3 linked regions of the Homo sapiens genome follow. The protein of the gene in region 2 purifies or fractionates together with the protein of the main gene of each other region. This does not show direct contact. Each region holds a gene or a part of one and is shown on either strand. Other genes may lie near its edges.

What was found.
Region 1: the proteins of NMUR2 (region 2) and DNAJC18 purify together in Homo sapiens (affinity purification with mass spectrometry; 2 studies listed by BioGRID and IntAct, with this or other methods). This does not show direct contact.
Region 3: the proteins of NMUR2 (region 2) and SLC12A6 purify together in Homo sapiens (affinity purification with mass spectrometry; 2 studies listed by BioGRID and IntAct, with this or other methods). This does not show direct contact.

The regions. Positions count from the first base shown.
Region 1 is NC_000005.10:139,414,642-139,422,525, forward strand, and holds part of DNAJC18 (dnaJ homolog subfamily C member 18), read right to left. Parts: intron 5,585-7,884; coding exon 5,412-5,584; intron 3,952-5,411; exon of another isoform or gene 3,361-3,951; intron 3,076-3,360; exon of another isoform or gene 2,954-3,075; intron 1-2,953.
Region 2 is NC_000005.10:152,390,363-152,396,364, forward strand, and holds the end of NMUR2 (neuromedin-U receptor 2), read right to left. Parts: intron 5,223-6,002; coding exon 5,097-5,222; intron 2,140-5,096; coding exon 1,829-2,139; 3' UTR 1,184-1,828; downstream 1-1,183. UniProt on the Homo sapiens protein: Receptor for the neuromedin-U and neuromedin-S neuropeptides.
Region 3 is NC_000015.10:34,235,898-34,243,781, reverse strand, and holds part of SLC12A6 (solute carrier family 12 member 6), read left to right. Parts: exon of another isoform or gene 1-656; intron 657-1,560; coding exon 1,561-1,680; intron 1,681-2,444; coding exon 2,445-2,549; intron 2,550-2,952; coding exon 2,953-3,121; intron 3,122-4,621; coding exon 4,622-4,817; intron 4,818-5,380; coding exon 5,381-5,550; intron 5,551-6,231; coding exon 6,232-6,363; exon of another isoform or gene 6,364-6,392; intron 6,393-6,966; coding exon 6,967-7,074; intron 7,075-7,582; coding exon 7,583-7,767; intron 7,768-7,884.

The DNA.
Region 1 (7,884 bases), about 13 Mb from region 2:
TATTCCTGTCATCTGAAACAGACAGCTGCTTTATTCTTCTCCTGCATTGCTGCATCATAACTCACATGTGCGAAGGCACACAGAGCCTACTGCTGCCGGGTGTGCGTCCACAGAAGGCCAGGGCACTACTGGCGCTGTTCATTCCCTCACCACACGTAGGGTCCCCAACTCAAAGGCCAAAGGCAGCTGGGCCTTTCTAAAAGTTGAATCATCTGGATCCGGTGACCTTTGTCTCCTTGACTAAATTAATTTCATTTTCTCTTTATGGTGGAGAAGGTCATTCTATTTTTAACCAGAATATAATCTCTGCTGTGTTTCCTGACTCAACAGTGGTTTGGTTGCCTCTATTTTTTATTCTTTTGTGAGGTTTCAGACATATTCAGGGAGGAATGCCTGAAGAGCACCTTTAGAGACGTATTGCGTATTAACAGGATGGCATGCTTGGATGTGGTGTGTGTTTCCTGAAAGCCTCCAACAGCAGGCAGCTACTCAATGTTTAAAGGACCAGACTTGTAAAAATGCTATTTTAATTGTTTTGAAATATGCCTATCTATTCTTAATCATCTTGCTGACAGATTTTGTTTTTCTTGGTGGAACGAAAGACACCTGTCTGATTAATCAGCAAACTGCCTGGAAACGGAATTATTATTTAGCCAGGGGGAACAATGGGCATTGCTTTCTGAATACGTTTCTATCAACACAAAACACTGTCTGGCATTTCTGTGCACAATGATGCTATTTACCCCCAAGTAAGGCCCAAAGTGCAGATTAAGTGCAGGACTCCAGAGTGAGGGATGGATATGCATAAAAACCCTCCCTCTACAATGGAGGCCGCACAGCCTGGGCTCTAGCCCAGCAGTTGCTTGGCAAGCAGTGGGTCTCCCAGGCTCCAGAACAATGCGCTCTCCCTGCTTGGTGAGGGTGCCTGCAGCGCCTGCTAGCCAGGGCTTGCCTTGGCACAGTCACCCTTGCAGGTGATGGGGCGTCATGGAGGATCATGGGCCATATCCAAATGAAAGCTCTCTGCTCCTGCATCCTGCCCAGGGCTCGGCACTAACTCCAATCTCAGGCTACTTTGGCATGTGGGTAACCTTGCCCAGGAGGCCTCTGTGAAGTCAGTCTATGCCTTTAGTCCTCTGGAGTCACAGTTACACCAGTATTGAAACAGATTCTGTGGTTTTGCTTTTCTTTGAAATGATTTCCTCAGGTTTTCCATTTGCTCAGCTTTTCTAAATGCTTCATTCCCTGAAATCTTGTTCCAGGAAACATTAAGGGCTAGTGACTCTTTATATTTTCTACATTGAAGGCCACTTCAACAAGCTGATGAAAGATAACTGCTTTTCTCAAAATATCACATTGCTTTTCATAAAGTTCACTGAAACCAGCTCAGAGACCCCTGCTCCAGAGCAATGACCTTGTACAAGGTCAGTGTTTCAAGGAATCATGTCCCACATCCCCACTACCAAGCTTAAAGCAACTTCTCTCCAAACTGCCAGTGAATCCTTTCATCCTTCAATGAACAAAGGGTCAACTTGAAGAATATGCTACTTTTGACAAATTCTGTTAATATTCAATAAATTCTAAGTAATTAAAAAAAATTTTGGGGAGTGGCAGGTTCCAGAGAATACCTTTTCTTCTTAGCAGAAAGTTCCCCTTCCTCTGAATGCCACTGTAACAGATGGACAGAGCATTGAGCCTTAAAGATAAACTGACTCAGGCAAATTGCCAAGAGAAGCAAGACCCAGAACCTCTCCTAAGGTTCTCTGCAAAAGAGCCCAGATTGGTCTCAACAGCTGAAAGACCGCAACAGATCCCAACTGCCCTCATGATCCAGCCCCATGAGATGGTGCTACATCCAGTCTACAGTGCAAAGCCAGGTAAAGCCAGGACTCCACCAGAAATTAGGCACTTTCTATGTGCCAGACACTGTGCTAAGAGTTACACCCATACCATCTTCCATAACCCACACAACCTCTCTAGGAGGAAGTGGATTCTATCCCCATTTCAAAGCCTAAGCTTCTACCCACTAGGTTATCCTGCTCAAGGGTGTGGAAAGAAGTGCTCCTCTACCAGTCTGGGCCAGGAGCTCAGCTCAGCTCAGCTAGGCCAAGAGGCAGTTCCTGCCTGCTACCTTCGTCCAGCCCAGCCTAGTGGTGTGGCCACTTGCCCTGGCATCAGGCTTACTATCTAGATGCAGCTGCGAAGAAGTAAACAGGACAATTAGTGTTTATAGTAAGGGATTACTCATAAAGGTTTGCCCAGATTGGCCGGGTGTGGTGGCTCACGCCTGTAATCCCAGCACTTCGGAGGCCGAGGTGGGCGGATTACCTGAGGTCAGGAGTTCGAGACCAGCCTGACCAACATCCTTGAAACCCCGTCTCTACTAAAAACTACAAAAATTAGCCAGGCACGGTGGCATGCACCTATAGTCCCAACTACTCAGGAGGCTGAGGCAGGAGAATCGCTTGAACCTGGGAGGTGGAGGTTGCAGTGCGCCGAGATTGCATGACTGCACTCCAGCCTGAGCGAGAGAGCGAGACTCTGTCAAAAAAAAAAAAAAAAAAAATTTTCACCCAGATTAAACATTCTAAGGAAGAGCAGAGAAAAATAAATGAACCAAACAAAGATTTAAAAAGTCAATGGCTAACCTTGCTAAAAACAGTTTGCATTTGGTATTTTGCCAAGAGTGAACTTTGTTCTCAAGTGGGTTTATTTTTACAACCTCCAAGTGCTAAATTTAACCTTGTTGGCTGCACTTGCTGCTGGATTCGGAGGGCAGATGCTGCTTGTTCTCAAATGGCACTTGGGTTGTGTGGAGGCTCTGCATAGCCGCTGTACTTAAATGCCAGAAATAGATTTTTAAGGGGTTTGTGCTGATAACTGCCATTTGGAACTTGTGGGTACACGCATCATGCTTACTCACTGGATTTTTTTTTTTTTTTTTTTTTTTTAGATGGAGTCTCGCTCTGTCACCCAGGCTGAAGTGCAGTGGCACGATCTCAGCAGACTGCAACCTCCGCCTCCCGGGTTCAAGAGATTCTCCTGCCTCAGCCTCCCAAGTAGCTGGAATTACAGGTGCGCACCACCACACCCAGCTAATTTTTGTATTTTTAGTAGAGAAGGGGTTTCGCCATGTTGGCCAGGTTGGTCTCGAACTCCGGACCTCAGGTGATCCATCCTCCTTGGCCTCCCAAAGTGCTGGGATTACAGGCATGAGCCACCACACCTGGCCACTCACTGGATTTTTATTTATACCTGGAGAGTGCCGAAGCTCTGAACTAGGCCTCATGGGGATGGGGACAAAAGCTGAGAAACTACCTCTGGTGCAATCCTTACCATGAGCTCTTTGTATAATTCCAGCATCTTACTGCCACAGAGGAAGATGTGGGGCAGGCGGGTGTTTGAAGAATGTGAAATGCAGATTTTCATCCAGTTCTTGCAGAAAGCAACAAAGTCAAAGCCCTCCCAGGACCCAGACAATGGGGATTTTCAGGACATACACTGGCTTTCACCTGATTTGGATCCATGTATATACTGCCTTTTTATTGAGACAGGATCTCGCTCTGTGGCCCAGGCTGGAGTGCAGTGGAGTGATCACAGCTCACTGCAGCCTTGATCTCCCAGGCTCGACCTCCTGAGTAGCTGAAACCACAGGCATGTGCTGCCACACCTGGCTTATTTTTATACTTTTTCTAGAGATGGGGTTCCCAGGCTGGTCTCAAACTCCTGGACTCAAGTGATCCTCCTGCCTCGGCCTCCCAAAGTGCTAGGACTATAGGCATGAGCTACCATGCCTGGCCTATATACTGCCTTTTAATATGAGGCCTTTATCCTGCTCTAAAATTCTTTCCTGATTTTTGATTCTTGTAAAATCTAGTTTAGCAATGGGGTAGAGTATTTCCTGAATCCTCAGTGTTTTTCAATAAATTGGAATTTCCTCTTCCTGTTTAATTTCCTCTTATATCCCAGAGTCATTGCTCACCAACTTCCTAATGCACCTTGAGAGAACATTAGGACTTTGCCGTACAGAAATAGGGGGCAGAGACCAGGTCCCTAAGGGTGAGCTAGGACACTAACCCTGCTGTTGTTATTCACAATCCTCAGCATTTTCATTGTTTTCTACTCCTGAGAATCCTCTCTTCAAAAGACATTTGTTGAGCACTTGTTCTGAAGCAAGGACTGTGCCAGAACCCTGGGACACAAAATTAGTAAGACCAAGTTCTTATTCCCAGACAGTCCATAGTCTTGCAGGGGAGACTGACATATATCCCTGGAACTCTAACACTGTGTGATTGGTACTATGTTAGCAGGCTGAACAAAGTGCTTTAAGAACACAGAGGAAGGAGAGCTTAACTTGAGGGCGGGGTTGGGAGTGTGTGATGGTCAATGAGGGCTTAGCAGCACTGTGACTGAAGAGCTAATTTTATCAGACTCCATTAGGTATTTAATGATACTCAGTAATAAGGCTTTAGAAATGAGTCAGAATTTGCTTTTTAAACATGAGCCAAAACTTCAGTTAAAAGGGTACCTCCTGAAAAATAAAAAAGAAAATAAAAATAATCAAAACCAAGTTTTAGAAGACACAGTCACTAACGCGGTATGTGTGTGTAGAATTCAAGTGGGACCAAAGGTGAAGCTGTTGGCTGAGACGGGGCTACCCCTGCTGCAGACACTCCTAGTAACACTTGCTGGAGCTGTAAGCCAGTGGCAGATGCTATCATCCCCACTGTCTCCAGAGAGGGAAATAGGGGGGAAGGCCTGCCACACCCAAAGGGGCAGACCCAAGGGGTCGCTTTTGTTCTGTGTGGCCACAACCAGCTGGAGGTGAGGGTAGGGGACACCTCATTCCATACCAGAAACCTCTAAACCTTTGTTCTGTTTCAAAAAGTTAGGCTGGCTCGATCAGATTTCCCTCTAGGGAGTGTGGAATTGGGAAACTGTGGACCAAATCAGCGAGCACCAAGAACTTACAGACGTGTGTGCTGCAGAAAGGGGCACTGACTGGTGAGACTGGGGAATTTGAGAGAGTGATAAGCAGGGTGGCAACCACTGTAAACCATGGCAAACAAGGTTATGCAAAAGGGAAGCTGGAAGAAAGAAAGGAAGGCAGCTGGTGGGGAGAGGAGAGGGGGCAGATTGGCAGAGAGAGGTAGAGACTCAAAGAGAGACAGACATACAGACAGGTGACTAGTGCCGCCTAAATTCCTAAGATTTCCAAGTCCTGGCCACATGTATCCTGTCAATAAATTTCCCCTACTTTTTTATAGTATCCTGAATGGCCTTTGTCCTCTGACTCTGTTCACATAAACATGCGTAGCCTCAAACAAGAAGAGAGGAGGGATCAGGAGGCTGGGGGTGCCTCCTGCTGGGAACCACAGCCACCAGCTAATGCCCCTTTTACAGTATCTTACTTTGTTGTTTCTCCTTCCAACAACTAGTCTGGATATAATCAATGTAATCCTTCTCTATTGTTTTCTCCAAGTCATGCAGAGAAGCTCCTCTGTAGGCCTTGTCAAAGTTTTTATCCACAAAGTAAGGCACCTGCAGGTTCTGAGTTTCTCTAGAAATGGTGTAGCCCAAGGTCCTGAAACAAGGAGAGAGAGGCTCATGTGAGCTCATAATATTTGGCAATATTACTCTTAGCACTGCCCTCACAGATATCATCATCATCATCTGCTCATAGAGCAGAGGCAGATATCATTTTCTAATATACCCAACACTTCTTATTTCCCTAGCAAAGTTGTAAGTATAACATCATCATAATTGTATTATGTAAGCAAGTTCATACTATGAATTCAGCTTCAGCATAGTTTATTCTCTTAAAGGACTCACCTCTCTTATACTGCTCTCTGTGCTAAAAGTAGAATGCTGAATGCTTAAAACAAACAATTTTTACGTTGTGTAGGATCTAGTATGGTACCTGACAGAGTAGGCTATTATAAATGCTGGTTGAATGAACTGATTATGTTATATAGCAAATTATTTACAAAAAAAACAGATAGCTCACACCAACCTAGAAGCAATATTTTGGACATGATAAAAAGTACTTCGCACATAGCTGCTAACTGAGAACTGCAAGAAACTCAGACAAAAGATTTCAATGATGCTTTAGAGCTAACTCTCTGTGGGTCCAAGACATCCAAAGGTATCTGGTGCTTAGCAACATTAATAAGAGTACTGAGCTGACTAATTCTAACCATAAGGAAACATAGAAGGGACCTCAAACTCAAGTTAAAACAATGTGACAGAAATGGTTTTCTTCAAACTGGACAAATTCTACATTAAAGGGGCTATATTTTATTTGGCCTTTTTCCGGCCCTCTCCTTTGATCCTCTCTAATTAGAGTAAGAGCTGAAGCCATGACTGCTCTCCCCTCACTCTAAGGTTTTGGGGGAGCTTACAGAGCAGGTCCGTGCTTACCCCGCTGGCCTCACAAGAAAGAAAGCTAAAGTGCCATATGGAAAAACATGAGAAGCTGGGAAACAGAGGGAATCAGGCCAGTGTGGCCTGATGGCAAAAACCTCTCTATGAAGGCTAGGTGCAGTGGCTCATGACGGTAATCCCAGCACTTTGGGAGGCCAAGAAAGGTGGAGGTCAGGCGTTCGAGACCAGCCCAGCCAACATGGTGAAACCCAGTCTCTACTAAAAAATACAAAAATTAGCCAGGTGTGGTGGCACATGCTTATAATCCCAGCTACTCAGGAGGCTGAGGCATGAGAATCGCTTGAACCTGGGAGAAGGGGATTACAGTGAGCCAAGATTGCACCACTGCACTTCAGCCTGGGAGCCTGGGTGACAGAGCAAGACTGCTTCGAAAACAAAAACAATAAAAAGAAACCTCTCTTTCAGCCTCAGCTTCGCTCTCTGTAAAAGGAAAATACTAGCCGGGCGCGATGGCTCATGCCTGTAATCCCAGCACTTTGGGAGGCCAAGGTGGGCAGATCACCTGAGGTTAGGAGTTTGAGACCAGCCTGGCCAACATAGTGAAACCCTGTCTCTACTAAAATATAAAAATTATCCGGGTGTGGTGGTGCGTGCCGCCTGTAATTCCAGCTACTCAGGAGGCTGAGGCACATGAATTCCTTGAACCAGGGATGTGGAGGTTGAAGTGAGCCCAGATTGCACCACTGCACTCCAGCCCAGGCGACAGAGTGAGACTCTGTCTCAAAAAACAAAAACAAACAAAAAAGGAAATACTGACCTGGATTGACCTGGAATGATGGTCTTGTCTACAGTGATCACTGACAAAGACTCTTCCTGTTATATATTGTCTAATAAATTCTACTTTTAAAAGGTTTTTTTCCCACTAAATTATAATAATGAATAATAATTTATTATTCATTATTAACAAAAAAGATAATCTAGTGATTCTCAAACTTCAGTGTGGACCAGAATAATCTAGAGGGTTTTTTAAAACTCAGACTTCTGGTCCTACCCCCAGAGCCTCTAATTCAATGGATATGGAGGGGCCCTAGAATCTGCCTTTCTAACATGTTGCCTGTTGATGCTGACGATGGCTGGTCTGGGGACCAAACTTTGGGAACTGAATCAACTGAAAGAATTAATTGAAGAAATTTTTAAAAATCCTATCAGAGTTTATAATCTATACGCAAAAAGCATTACAAGGAATTTCTCTATTTTCAACAAAAACAAAAAAATTGAAAATAATCACTTGATCCCCATTATTAATACTATGCTCCGAGACCCACAGGGTCCAGCAATCCTATCAACAGCTTAACAGAGTCTTTCTAACTCTACCATGGTGTGATAATGAGTTCATCTAAACCTTAAATTCTACTGATCCTTCAAAAACCAGTTACTGCTGTTCTGCAGCTGACCAGATGATGTCACTATAGAACAAGACAATCTATTTCCCGAGGCACA
Region 2 (6,002 bases):
AAAACATTAATATCCTTGTACAATTCTATCACAGCTCTTGGGTGAATAGGTGCATTATTCATAAGCAGTAATATTTAGAAAGGAATCTTTTTGTTGAGCAGTAGGTCTCAACAGTGGGCTTAAAATATTCAGTAAACCATGCTGTAAACAGATGTGCTGTTACCCAGGTTTTGTTTCCCCATTTATAAAGCACAGAGTAGATTTAGCATAATTCTTAAGGGCCCTAGGATTTTCAGAATGGTGAATGAGCATTGGCTTCAACTTCAGGTCACCAGCTGCATTATCCCCAAACAAGAGAGTCAGCCTGTTCTTTGAAGCTTTGAAGTCAGACATTGACTTCTCTTCTTTAGGTATAAAAGCCTTAGTTAGATGGCATCTTCTTCCAAGATAAAACTGTTTCATCTGCATTAAAAATCTTTTTTGTTTTTCTGTAGCCAACTTCATCAATTATCTTAGCTGTAACTTCTGGATAACTTGCTGCAGCTTCTACATCAGCACTTAATGTTTCAGTTTGCACTTTTATATTATAGAGAATGGCTTTTTTCTTTAAACCTCATGAACCAACCTCTGCTAGCTTCCAACTTTTCTTCTGCATCTTTCTCAGCTCTCTCTGTCTCCATAGAATTGAAGAGAGTTAGGGCCTTTCTCTGAATTAGGCTTTGGCTTAAGGGAATGTTGTGGCTGGTTTGATCTTCTATCCAGACCACTCAAACTTTCTTTGTATCAGCAATGAGGGTGTTTTGTTTTCTTACAATAATTTATGTGTTCACTAGAGTAGCATTTTTAACTTTCTTTAAGAGCTTTTCTTTTGTATTCCAAACTTGGCTAAAAGCTACAAGAGGCATAGATAGCTCTAAGCCTATCTCAGTTTTTTTACATCCTCACTAAGCTTAATCCTTTCTAGCTTTTGATTTAAAGTGAGAGACTTGCCGCTCTTCCTTTCACTTACACTTAGAGGCCATTGCAGGGTTCTTAATTGGCCTAATTTTAATATTGTTTTGTCTCAGGGAATAGGTAGGCCCATGGAGAGGGACCAAGATGGGGAATGGCTGGTGGGTGGAACAGTCAGAACAACACAATATTTATTAAGCTCTCCATCTTCTATGGAAGCAGTTCATAGGTTTCCCAAAATAATTACAATAGTAATATCAAAGATCACTGACCACAGATCACCATAAGCACATATAATAATAATCAAGTTTATTGCGAAAATTATGACAATTGATACAGAGACATGAAGTGAGCACATGCCTTTGGGAAGAAAGATGCCAGCAGATTTGCTCAACAGCATTGCCACAAACTTTCAATTTTTTTAAAAGTGCAATATTTGAGAAGCACAATAAAATTCAGCACAATAAAACAAGTTATGCCTGTAGACTGCTGCCAAGGGACACTGATGTTGGCTTCTCACATCATATAAAGTAGAACAGCACGTACATGTCTTCCTTCTGTGGCTCACAGTGGCCATTGGTAGTAGGAGTGACAGCCTGACTCGGAACGTAGATGACTCAGGACGAACCATTTCCATTAATGGAAATTAATCAAGGTATAGGTGCCATGCCTTTCCAGTCACGTTCTTGGCATGAACTAGTGAAGGGGCATGAGGCAGTTAGGATAGTGGAAAGATAACTAAAAATCAGGCAGTCTTGGGTTTTGAAACCAGATCTAACTCTCAGTTTTCACGTTTATTAAAAAAAAAAAAACTAGCAATGGGTACATGAGTTGTAAGAGCCATTCTACCTCTCTAATATCATATGAGAAGGCATACATTATGGGATGTTCCTCTCTGAAGTTTTGAGGCATAGAGGAGAGTCAGCTCTGAAAGAATTCAGGTTTTGTTAAAGTGGAAGCTTTGATAGTTTGTTCTTGACATCTGTTCACTAGAGAGGGCTGCTGGGAGGTGAGAGTTGTGCATGGATGACTGACATGGGAATTGGGGACCTATATCTTCGGTCAGCTCCACAAAGTGGCATTCTGTCAGGAAGATGTTCCGCTGGGCAGGTGGCAACTGTGGGTCATGCTGGGAGTGCCACTGTTTGTGGAAAGAAGAGATCACATTCTGGAATGCTGCCTGGAAGCGGCGAGACAGTAGGTTATAGATAATGGGGTTGACAGCTGAGCTCAGGTAGAAGAAGACACCTGGAATGCAGGGGATTTAAAAAGATGTGCTGAGAAGAACTTAAGTGACCGGCATGAAGGAAGAAGCATAAATATTTACAAAGGCCTAGAATCCCTGTGATTGCCTCTTTTATAAGTGATAATACATACAAGCATCTAATTGAGAATACAAAATGCTCTGAATAGATCTTCCACCTGTGCACTTAGCCATCAAACACAAAGATTAAAGAGTCTTGGAGTAAGTTAGGCTGACATGGGATCTCTCTGAGATGTTCAGCAACTTTCTTTGATCACTACTTGTTTAATTAAAGAACATGTTTCTATAACATGACTGAAAGATGCTTAAATATCAGAGGGAAGAGAAACGTTTCTATCTCATTGGAATTTTACTTAAATCTATAATTTGGGATTGCAAGTAGTGGAAGAAGGTAAATCAGCCAAGGCTTAGTTCCTGCTGAGACTCCTTATAATGCTAAGATACGGCTTCAAAGAAATATTCCCTAGCGTGCTGTTCCTACCTACCCTTTTCCCTTGATGGTTCCTCCACCTTTTGAAGAATTGTATTTTACCATTTATTTCCTCTACCAATTAACCTTCACATTGTCATTTTCCTGTTTGGAATACACTCTTCCTTTATTGCCTTTTTAAATTTTATTTCTCTAAAGCCCAAAATCAGCCCAAGTTTGGGAATCAGAGGACCTAGTTTCTGATCTTGGCCCTCTAATATCCTGTGGCCTTAGACAAACCCTGGCACTTCAGTTTCTTTCTCTGTAAAATGGGAATGTGATTTCCAGCCTAACCCACCTCCCTGGATTATTGTGAGGGTAAAGTTAAGATACCATCCACAGAGAGGTTGAGAATGGCTAAGAATGTAAAACAAGTGATGGGTAATATTGCCAAAAGGTTCCTTGTTGTCCTTATTTATGTGGTTCAGAACATTCAGAATGCTATATGCCTTGTTTACAGAATAAACATGGAAGAATGTTAAAGGAGAATATTTCTATGCATTAATACTATTAGTTCATTCAAAAAATAAATATTGATTTAACTCTTATTATGTGCCATGAACTTCAAAGCACATTGGGAGGTAGTGAATTAGACTTTGTTCTCCAAGATCTTGGAATGGTACTGCAGAGACAAGATTTATGGCTAAGTTAAATAATTAACAATACAACAATACCAAGCAGTATCTGTTAAGAACAAATATGAGATAACAAATCATGCTATAGCAATTCACATAATAACAGAAACACAAGGACTGTGATAATCATAAAAGATTTAGTGGGGGGTGATTGAACTCTAGCCAGGCCTCAAAATGGGTAAGAGATAGTTGAGGAAGACAGGAGAGGGTGTTGCAGGTACAGGGTATATAGCACGCATAAGTATTCAGGGGCAGGAATGGCCATATTGTGCAGGAATAATGTGCAGAACTCTCTAATTACCAATTTGATAAGTATATGGTCTATGAATAAAAATAATAAAAGTTGGAGGATTAAAAGGCAAGTTGGGGGTATTTTCTGTAGGGTTTAAGAGATTTAGATTTAATCTAGTGGCTAATATAAAAGGGGGGAGATGGTATCTGAACAGGATCATGTCATTATTGAGGCTATAACTTGAAAATCTTAAGATAATTGCCTTGACGCATCCAGAGAATTGTAGTCAATTAGTCAAGTCTCATTTGACCTTGTAGTGCTTTCTCATTTATTTAAACATTTCTGTTTTCCGCAGATTAACCAAAAGGATAAACTAAGAGGTATACATATTTTTGAGCTTTGGTTGCAAATGGTTGAACAGGAAAGTGCTAATGTCCAGGAATAAGCTATACATTAGGCCTGCTGAGTACAAAAAAGAGGGTGACAGAAAATACATAGTATACACAATATTCAGTATAGATGTCATTGTTTCTGCTTTGTACACATCTGGAGCTTAACTTGTAAAAGGTGATCTTATCTTTCCTTTCCGGTGATGTCTTCTATAATCTAATGAGCCCATAGAATCAGCCGGTGACCAGGAGAGGTGGGGGGACAGAAGAGGTCTGAGCCTAAGGCTAACACTGAGTTAGCTGTCACTGACTGAGAAAGAAGAAACTAGGTGGTCATTCTTTGCTTCATTTTAGTAGAAAGAACACTGAACTTGAAGTTAGATGACTTGGGTGGGTTATTTGTTAGCTAAGTGCCTTAGGGCAAATCATTTCTTCTTGTGGAAGGGTTTTATTTTTGACTATACAATGTTAATCATAATATCCACCTAATGACCTTGTGATGATTATAGAAAGATATACAGCAATTACAGCTTAAAGAGCTCTTTAATGTCTATTATTGCATTTGCTCCTTACCATCAGTCCATGGTTTGTGTACAGGAGGCTTTTTTTTTTTTTTTTTTTTGCCATTTTACAGTTGAGGAAACTTTGGTGTGAAGGCAGCCACGTTCTCCAGATCACTCAGAATAGCAATGGTGAAATTGGGTTGCAAATCCAGGTCATCTGACTTACTGACCTTTCCACCATGGTTTCCACAATATACTATGGTATCCTCAACAAGCAGAGTTACAGTAGCCTAAAAGGAGAACTTGATTACCTATGAATACCATTTAGTTTTCCTTCATGAGGATATAATACTTCCCAAAGGCAATATGAGATTTCAGGGACATGGGTGTTTACTAAATAAGAACCAATTTAATTGCATGGCCATTTGGAGGATAACCAAAGGAATCACTCCTTGACCATTTTCCTTCTGTAATCATCACAGTTAGACTTGAGGTTTTCCATAAAGTAGCCTTGAAAATAGTGATCTGGTATATATGTATTTGGAACAGTATCAAACATAATCAATCTCTGAATAAAAGAAAAATCAAATGTCTTCATTATAGCATGGCAGATCCCCGTGATAAATTGGAGTACTTAGGCATCTAAGCAAGATGAAGAAGAAGGTGCTGTTACCTGAATACTAGTCATGCACCAAATCCAGCTAAGGTTTTACCTGACACCACATGGACGAGGTTGAACACAGCAGCCAGGGATTCACTCCACTCCTCCACAAAGCTGAAGAAGAGTCGGTCAATGTGGAACGGGGCCCAACAGATAGCAAACACTAAGACCAAGACAACTGAAAATGGATGATAAATGGGAGACCAGAAGACAGTCTGTGCAAGGATAGGTATACAATGCTCACTCTGAGTCAATCATTTCTTCTGGCAGTTTTTCCCTTCAACTTTGTTAAGCTATAACAGTTATAGAGGCAAACTAGATCCCAAAGAGTCTCAGTACAAAACACTTAAAACACAAGAATGAATTGTATAAGATCTAGGATCAGTTTTCCATAAGATTATACAAGATTTCTTATATAATGTAAAACTTTTTAGAACATTTAAAATAGTATTTAATTTATTTCAAAGTCCTGAAAACATCTTATTGTGAAAGATAAATAATAAACTGTTAAATGTGTATATAAATTCATCTTGTTGTTATAGGAATAATTAGAAGTTTCTCTGAATTCAATAATTTAAAATTCTGCAATGGGTAGGCAAGGAGAAAGAAGAGATCAAACAACCACAAGCCTAATAGTACTTTACAAGAATCTTTTGATTGGAAGGGGTGTGTCTGTCATATTATAAATTGCTACAGCACAGAATTCCTTCCCATCTCTTATTTTCACCTCCCAAAACAGAGACTGGTATTTCTGTAGTTTTTCTTTGGGGCATTTAAGCTCCACAAATTAAACACACACACACACACACACACACACACTTTTTTTTTTTCCTTTTGAAGTTGTAAATACTTTACTTTGCTATGACATGACTCTTGGGATTCGCCTAAAGATAATCTTTTGGGGCTAGGGGAGAGATAAGGGTATACATGAAACAAGATTAGCTATGAGGTAATACTT
Region 3 (7,884 bases), on a different chromosome or scaffold from region 2:
TAACACCCAATACGAATAGAGCAAAAGCACTAAATAGAGATATCCAGCCTTCTATAATTTTCAGGTTAAAACAACCTTCTCTTGCATGTTTATTTTCCTGTTTGTCTCTTAGGGTTACAGAGTCAGAGGTTCTAAATTCCAATCTCAGCTCTACTATTTCCTAGCTTTGTAACCTTCAGCAAAGCACATAACCATGTAAAATTTAATTTTATTCATTTGTAAAATGGGACTAATAAATCTAAAGTGCTTATCGTAGTGCCTGATACATAGTAAAGCTCAGCTCTCAATGAACTGTTGCTGCTGCTGCTGTTGTAGTTAAGTCTCCCCAGTCCTGAAGGGGTCATCATGAAAGATTTTTGGCTACCATCCCATCTCTTTCCTCTTATAGCTCAGAGCTCATTAATTATGTCCTGTATGTACCCGTTGCTACATTCTTCTTTGCTAACTTTCTCCTTGTTCCCTTTCTGTCTTCACTTACCAATGGTGGGCAGTGATGTAACGTTTACTGGGCAAAAATTAAAATCTTCAACTGATTTTTAATGCCTCAAATCCTCTTTCTAGCTTTAATGTTAGTTAGAAGTTCTTTATGAGGCCGGGCGTGGTGGCTCATGCCTGTAATCCCAGCACTTTGGGAGGCCAAGGCAGGCGGATCACCTAGGTCAGGAGTTTGAGACCAGCCTGACCAACATGGGGAAACCCCGTCTCTACTAAAAATACAAAAGTAGCCGGGCATGGTGGCACATGCCTGTAATCCCAGCTACTCAGGAGGCTGAGGTAGGAGAATCGCTTGAACCCGGGAGTCGGAGGTTGCAGTGAGCTGAGATCCCAGGTTCACACCATTCTCCTGCCTCAGCCTCCCGAGTAGCTGGGACTACAGGCGCCCGTCACCACACCCGGCTAATTTTTTGTATTTTTAGTAAAGACAGGGTTTCACCGTGTTAGCCAGGATGGTCTCAGTCTTCTGACCTTGTGATCCATCCGCCTCAGCCTCCCAAAGTGCTGGGATTACAGCTGTGAGCCACCGCATCCGGCCCAAAAATAATTTTTCTCAGTGAGTTCTGCAGTTATGCTAATAAGTATTTATAAAATTTTTAGAAATATTTATATGAAATTTTTTAAAAAGATCCTAGAGTTATTAACATTTCTGGCTGCGTGTCCCATCCTGGCTTTGCCAAGTAAGTATTAATTGTCCTCATAACTGCAGATGACTGATAGTGTTCCGTTATTTATATGGTTTTCCAGCAGTTGGAAACATCTTCTGTTGCAAAGGACAGTTTGGGGTTTAGTGCACATCTACCGACTGTTTCATGATAAGACAACTATAGAATTGAGAATAATCATTTAGAAACTTTTGTGGCAGTTTGACATTGCTACAGCATCCAGGCATGTGATAATTTTTCGAATAATTCATTTTTATTGCATTTTACAAAAGTTCTATTTATAATAGTTTCAAAGTTTTTAAAAAATAATACCTCACCACAGATAGTTTGAGAAGCACCTTTAACATAGGCTTCTTTTTCAGCTACTTTAAAAGATACTTTTTTGTTTTTAATTTTCTAGGGCCCTTTCTTTCATGGGAATGAGTATCTGTCTGGCTCTGATGTTCATTTCTTCCTGGTATTATGCCATTGTAGCCATGGTAATAGCTGGTATGATCTACAAGTACATTGAATACCAAGGGTGAGTGTGGATTTAATCTTGATCACTGCTAAAAGTAGCAAGACTAGCTAGTTTGGTTAGAGCCAGCTCAGTGAAAATATCTTAAGGACTCAGGTAACTTCATTTTCATAACTATATTTTGTACCCCTAATTCTTTAACCATCTTAATGATGCAAGCTTTTCATCACAAGGGAGATCCATTGAGAAAGTATGAATGGATCAATGGAAAATAACAAAGGACATTTCCAAATAATAATAATTAGTACTAAACAAAGTACAACACAAATGTAAATATTTTTGCTTATCTCTTCAGTCAAGGGGTTGTCTCTGAAATGAAAAAGAAATTAGTTCTGAACAACTTAGTAACTACTAAGACTTACAGCTTTCAAAAATGAGGACGAAATAACATTCTTATTCAGAAGATCACATTGAACTTTACTTTCTCTGCATTATTTTCAAAGTAACTTAAACTCCAGGTCTGTTATAATTTTCTAATCTAAATTGCTCTTTTACATTATTGTTTTGAACAATTACATAGAAGGACTGAATGAGTGACCCCTTCAGGCTTTATTGGGAACTGTTTGTGCAGTGCAGTCTGTTGGTGCTGTTGATCTACCTACATCAGGTTCATTATGTTAGTAAAGAACATTATGTAAATCATTAATCTGAGCTTTAATCTTCTACCTTGCACATGTGTGATTTTTAGATTCAGAAAAAAACTTTATTTTTTAAAATTATACTTACTATAGTTTAAATTTGTCTCTGCTCTTTTCTTTTTCTCACAGAGCTGAGAAAGAATGGGGTGATGGTATCCGTGGGCTGTCCCTCAGTGCAGCCCGGTTTGCTTTGCTTCGATTGGAGGAAGGACCTCCACACACTAAAAACTGGAGGTAAAGAAATCAACACTAGCAGTATTTGGCACATGGTTAACACACAAAAATATGTGTTTTGTTGATTTTAGGATAAGGAAACCATATGTGGCTCAAGGAATTGGTATAATGGACCTGTTTTGAACTATTCTAAATCCTTAATTTTTTTATTCCCTTTTCTTCATGTCGTTTATGATCAAGATTTCTACAATTTATTATTCTTCCTTGAAGACTGATCAACTTGAGATAGTACTGGGAGCATTCAAAATAATGCCCTTATCCTGTCATCTCCTGTGATCTCTTCCTTCTGTCAAATTACCTGTTTCATACAGATCTCCTGAATTAAAGGGTGGAGTCTGTCATTCTGTTCCCCAAACCCAAAATGTTTTCTCCTCCCCTCCAACCCCCACCAACCTCTTCACAGGCCTCAGTTGCTTGTATTACTGAAACTAGATGAAGACTTACATGTCAAGCATCCTCGCCTCCTCACCTTTGCCTCACAGCTCAAAGCAGGAAAAGGTCTCACTATTGTGGGCTCTGTCATCGTGGGGAACTTCCTAGAGAACTACGGTGAAGCTTTAGCTGCTGAGCAGGTAAGAGTCAGGCTTTTGAGGTATTGGAACTCAGTTTACAGCTTTGTGATGTTAAGTAGTAAGACCTCAAACTTCTACTTGAATCTTGTTCCTGAGTGATCTAGGAGGTTTCTCACTTAGTGCTGACCTTTGAAAGGACACTTTTTCCCAAATAATAAGATGAGCCAAAAATAGTTATTTATTATTTCTTCCTGTTTAAAGCATTACTAAATTATAAGATTATTAAGTCTAAACCTTATGTTCAAATATACTCCAAACATTAATCTAAGCACTGAGAAAAGTCATGTAAATAAATTGATCCCTTGAACTATGGAGAGGGTTCCTCTCAATCTTGTGACAACAAGGAGTAATGACCAAATTTTCTTCCTCTTTACTAATCTACGTGGTATCATGAGCAAGATTCCTTTGCCACTTCTGGTTAGCTGTATTGAACATTAAAGTTCTACTTTAACAAGGAAGTTGTTTTCACTCTAATACTTATTATATATGATAGAACTAATCCTATTGTTTTTGAAATGCCATTGTGTTCAATGGCATTTCAAAAGTTTTACTGTGGGGGGAGGGGGGAAGGATAGCATTAGGAGATATACCTAATGTAAATGACGAGTTAATGGGTGCAGCACACCAACATGGCACATGTATACATATGTAACAAACCTGCACGTTGTGCACATGTACCCTAAAACTTAAAGTATTTAAAAAAAAAAGTTTTACTGGATTTCATTTTGGAATCCTTTGAAATCCTAAACACTAGAAATGCTGAAGAAACATTACTCCAGAATGATGGTAAAAATTAATAAAAGGTACACAGGATTGAAAATCAGGAGAGCCTAGTTCTTAGCCGCATCACTGATTTAATCTGTGCCTTTGCAAAAATCATTCCATTTTCCATACCATTATTCCCAGGGTGGAGTAAGAGTAAATGAGATGATATCTCCAAATTGGTTTGACTAAATAAAGGAAGAGTAATGCAAATACAAGTGTCATGAATAATCACCATTAAAATGTCAAAAAGCATATGGGAATGGGAGAGGCGAAAAAGAAAACATACCTGAGAAAATTCTAAAGTGAAACTGAATCATCATACTGAGTTTCTGGTAAGATGAGTCAGGGCATGACTGGGGCTGAGGCAGGAAGGAGATCGTGTTCACAATAGTGAATCACCCTGGTCAACTGAGAAAGAATGTTGAATATTCACTTTGTAGAGATCCCTGTTCCCAGTTTTTTGGTATGGTGCAAAGGAACAAAAGCAGAACAGAGGAAAAAGCAGAGAAACTACATGTAGACAACCAGCTACAGAGGCAAAAATACGTAGTAAGCAAAAAGACAAAAGATCATGAAATTCCTTTGGGATAATTTTAACTTTTTGGACTTTTCTGTAGATGATATAGTATTATGAAGACTTTGGAAAAAGGTGGGGGATATAATATGGAGAAGGAACAATGGGTTAAAATGTCCAGAGTGAACCAGTTCAGTGTTGCGGTCCTGTGTCTCTTTCAGACCATAAAGCACCTAATGGAGGCAGAGAAGGTAAAAGGATTCTGCCAGCTGGTGGTGGCCGCCAAGCTGAGAGAGGGCATTTCCCACCTCATCCAGTCATGTGGCCTTGGGGGCATGAAGCACAACACGGTGGTGATGGGCTGGCCTAATGGCTGGCGTCAAAGCGAAGATGCCCGCGCTTGGAAGACTTTTATTGGTACTAACCATTTCTCATACAAACCTAAAGGCCCAAGTCGAGGGTATATAGTTAAATCTCTGTCACCCCCAGCCTCCTAAAGTAGAGACTATGCCATTGCTGAAGCATAGTCTTATAAGGCAACCTGAAAAACTATTGGTAGTAATACCCAGATTCTACCTACCCCCTTCAGCTTCACATTATGTTCATGAATTATTTCTGTCAAGTCTTGTGCTAGGAATTATCTCCAAAATTGCCGTGTTTTCATTTGTGATTTTCCATATTGATGTTCTCACAGGAATTGCAAGAATTGTTCTTCAGCATCATAATCTCTCAAATTCACATATCCCCCCTTAGAAATGTAGTAATGGGAATATACCTAGTAACATAAACTGTGGTTCTCAGTCTGTTAGCTATTCAGATTTTTCACAATGGTTTTTGATACGTAATGAGAAATAACCTACTAAGTAAATAGGACCCCTTGCTCAAAGAAGTGTGAAAAGAGCATTTCCTTGCTTTCCTGACATGCTAGGAAGCAAGGCAAGCCTAAGGATTCTTCTCTGCTTATTCTTTTTTCTCCCTAGGCACAGTTCGAGTGACAACTGCTGCCCATCTTGCACTGCTGGTGGCTAAAAACATCTCCTTCTTTCCCAGCAATGTGGAGCAATTTTCTGAGGGCAACATTGATGTGTGGTGGATTGTGCATGATGGGGGGATGCTTATGCTACTACCATTCCTACTGAAACAGCACAAGGTATTTTATACAACTTTTTTTTTACAAAAGTCTTTCTCCCTTCTGTCCTGGTTCACAGGACAGACAAATTCTTCCTCTGATTATAATAGTGTTGGGGTTTAGAATCAGAAGAGTTGGAAGTTATTCTAGGCTTTCCCATGATCCCACTTTCAAACAAGAGAAATCATTGTCTTTGTATTTGATACCTACTTATCTCCAAGTGAAATTCAGCCAATTAATAAAGTTCCATATGAGCCCTAGGGGAAAACAACAAGTGAACACATCTTTTTTTAAAAAATACTGAAAACTTAAGGTATATGTATATGTGTGTATTGCACGCATATATGCGCTCATTCCGTGGTAAGACTAATTAAATGAGATTTAAAATAGTAAATATATAGTCTGCATGTTGTCATTGATACACTGTCTGAATAAAGTACCCTCTTAACGTATCGTGAACCATCTTTTCTTTTGCCAGTGTTTTCTTGTTATGAAATTAAGGACTCCTTAAAACTGTATTAAATGTGGTGTTTAGTCAATCTTTTGCCCTAATACAATAACATAGCAAGTAGGAAGCTAGGAACAAATAGCCTTATACTACATATAGCAAGGTTCTTCTAGACCACAATGTCTAATGTCTTAGGAAATAACCTTTTTTGCCTCCTTGCTCTAATTTTTCACATGTGTATGTCACTCTCTCAGGTGTGGCGAAAGTGCAGCATACGGATCTTCACAGTAGCCCAATTAGAAGACAACAGTATCCAAATGAAGAAGGACCTAGCCACCTTCCTATATCACTTACGCATTGAGGCGGAGGTAGAAGTGGTGGAGATGGTGAGAAAGCTGAGTTTGAGATACAAGAGGTTCATTCCCCCATTCCTCTCCCTGTCTTCCTTGAATCTTTTCTGGTTTGGGAAATTTTTCAGATCTAAATGTGGATTAATCCCCTAGTGCCAAAAAAAAAACAAAAAAAAACCCTAATTTGTTGCCCTAAGTAGAATGTATATGTGATGCATGTTTGATGTTATTTTTTGGTTTTGCTTTCTTGTTTATTACACAGCCCTTATATTTCTGCCAGATTCTCATCTGCTTAATATAGTTTTATGAAATTTTTATTCATATATTCAGCTTAAAATCACACATGGCTTTTAAAAAAAACCTAACAGTATAAAAAAGAGAGACTGGAGTTTGTATTTTGTGTTTCAAGGCAACACATGTCTTGGTTAGATTATGGAAAAGACTCTCAGGGCCTCTGAATTTTATCTACAGTCACAAAAACATTTATGTAGCTCAATGACTAAACAAAGTAAGGGTGAAGCTTAGGTTAATATAGTGATGCTGTCCCTGGTTTAATTTAGTGACTGGAAATAAAAATGTATGGTTCATCCTTCTTTCTCCTTTGTGCTTTTTGCCCCTTTTATGTGATGTCTATGGCAGCATGACAGTGATATATCAGCATATACTTACGAGCGCACTTTGATGATGGAACAAAGGTCCCAGATGCTCCGGCACATGCGGCTATCCAAAACAGAGCGAGACAGAGAGGTGAGACATTACTGCATCAATCCAATCCGTGCTCTCTAAAGTCTGTCACTGAAAGGGATGATACTGGGCTGGGCATGGTGGCTCACGCCTGTAATCCCAGCACTTTTGGAGGCCGAGGCGGGTGGATCAAGAGGTCAGGAGTTCAAGACCAGCCTGGCCAAGATGGTGAAACCCCATCTGTACTAAAGTACGAAAATTAGCCGGGCATGGTGGCACATGCCTGTAATCCCAGCTACTCAGGAGGCTGAGGCAGAGAAGTGCTTAAACCCAGGAGGCGGAGGTTGCAGTGAGCCAAGATCACGCCACTGCACTCCAGCCTGCGTGACAGAGGAAGACTCTGTCTCAAACCAAAAAAAAAAGGGATGATACTATATTGTTTTCAAGGATGACAAATTCCTTCTCACTCTGTCAGTTATTCCACTATAACCCATTACTGCTTCAAAATAACCAAAGATGAAGCATAAGAGAAAATTTGGTAGAATAACTTGTGTTGGACCTTCTTCCTCAGGCACAATTGGTGAAAGACCGAAACTCAATGCTACGATTGACCAGCATTGGCTCTGATGAGGACGAAGAGACAGAAACCTATCAGGAGAAGGTGCACATGACTTGGACAAAAGACAAGTACATGGCATCCCGGGGACAAAAAGCGAAGTCAATGGAAGGATTCCAGGACCTGCTTAACATGCGTCCGTAAGTTTTCCCACTCCCAAGTTTATCATAAAATTACCTAATCAGTGGCACAAATGTGACTTTGCCTGGACACACAGGATGGAGTCTGTTCATTTCACCCTGAATCTAGCCACCTCA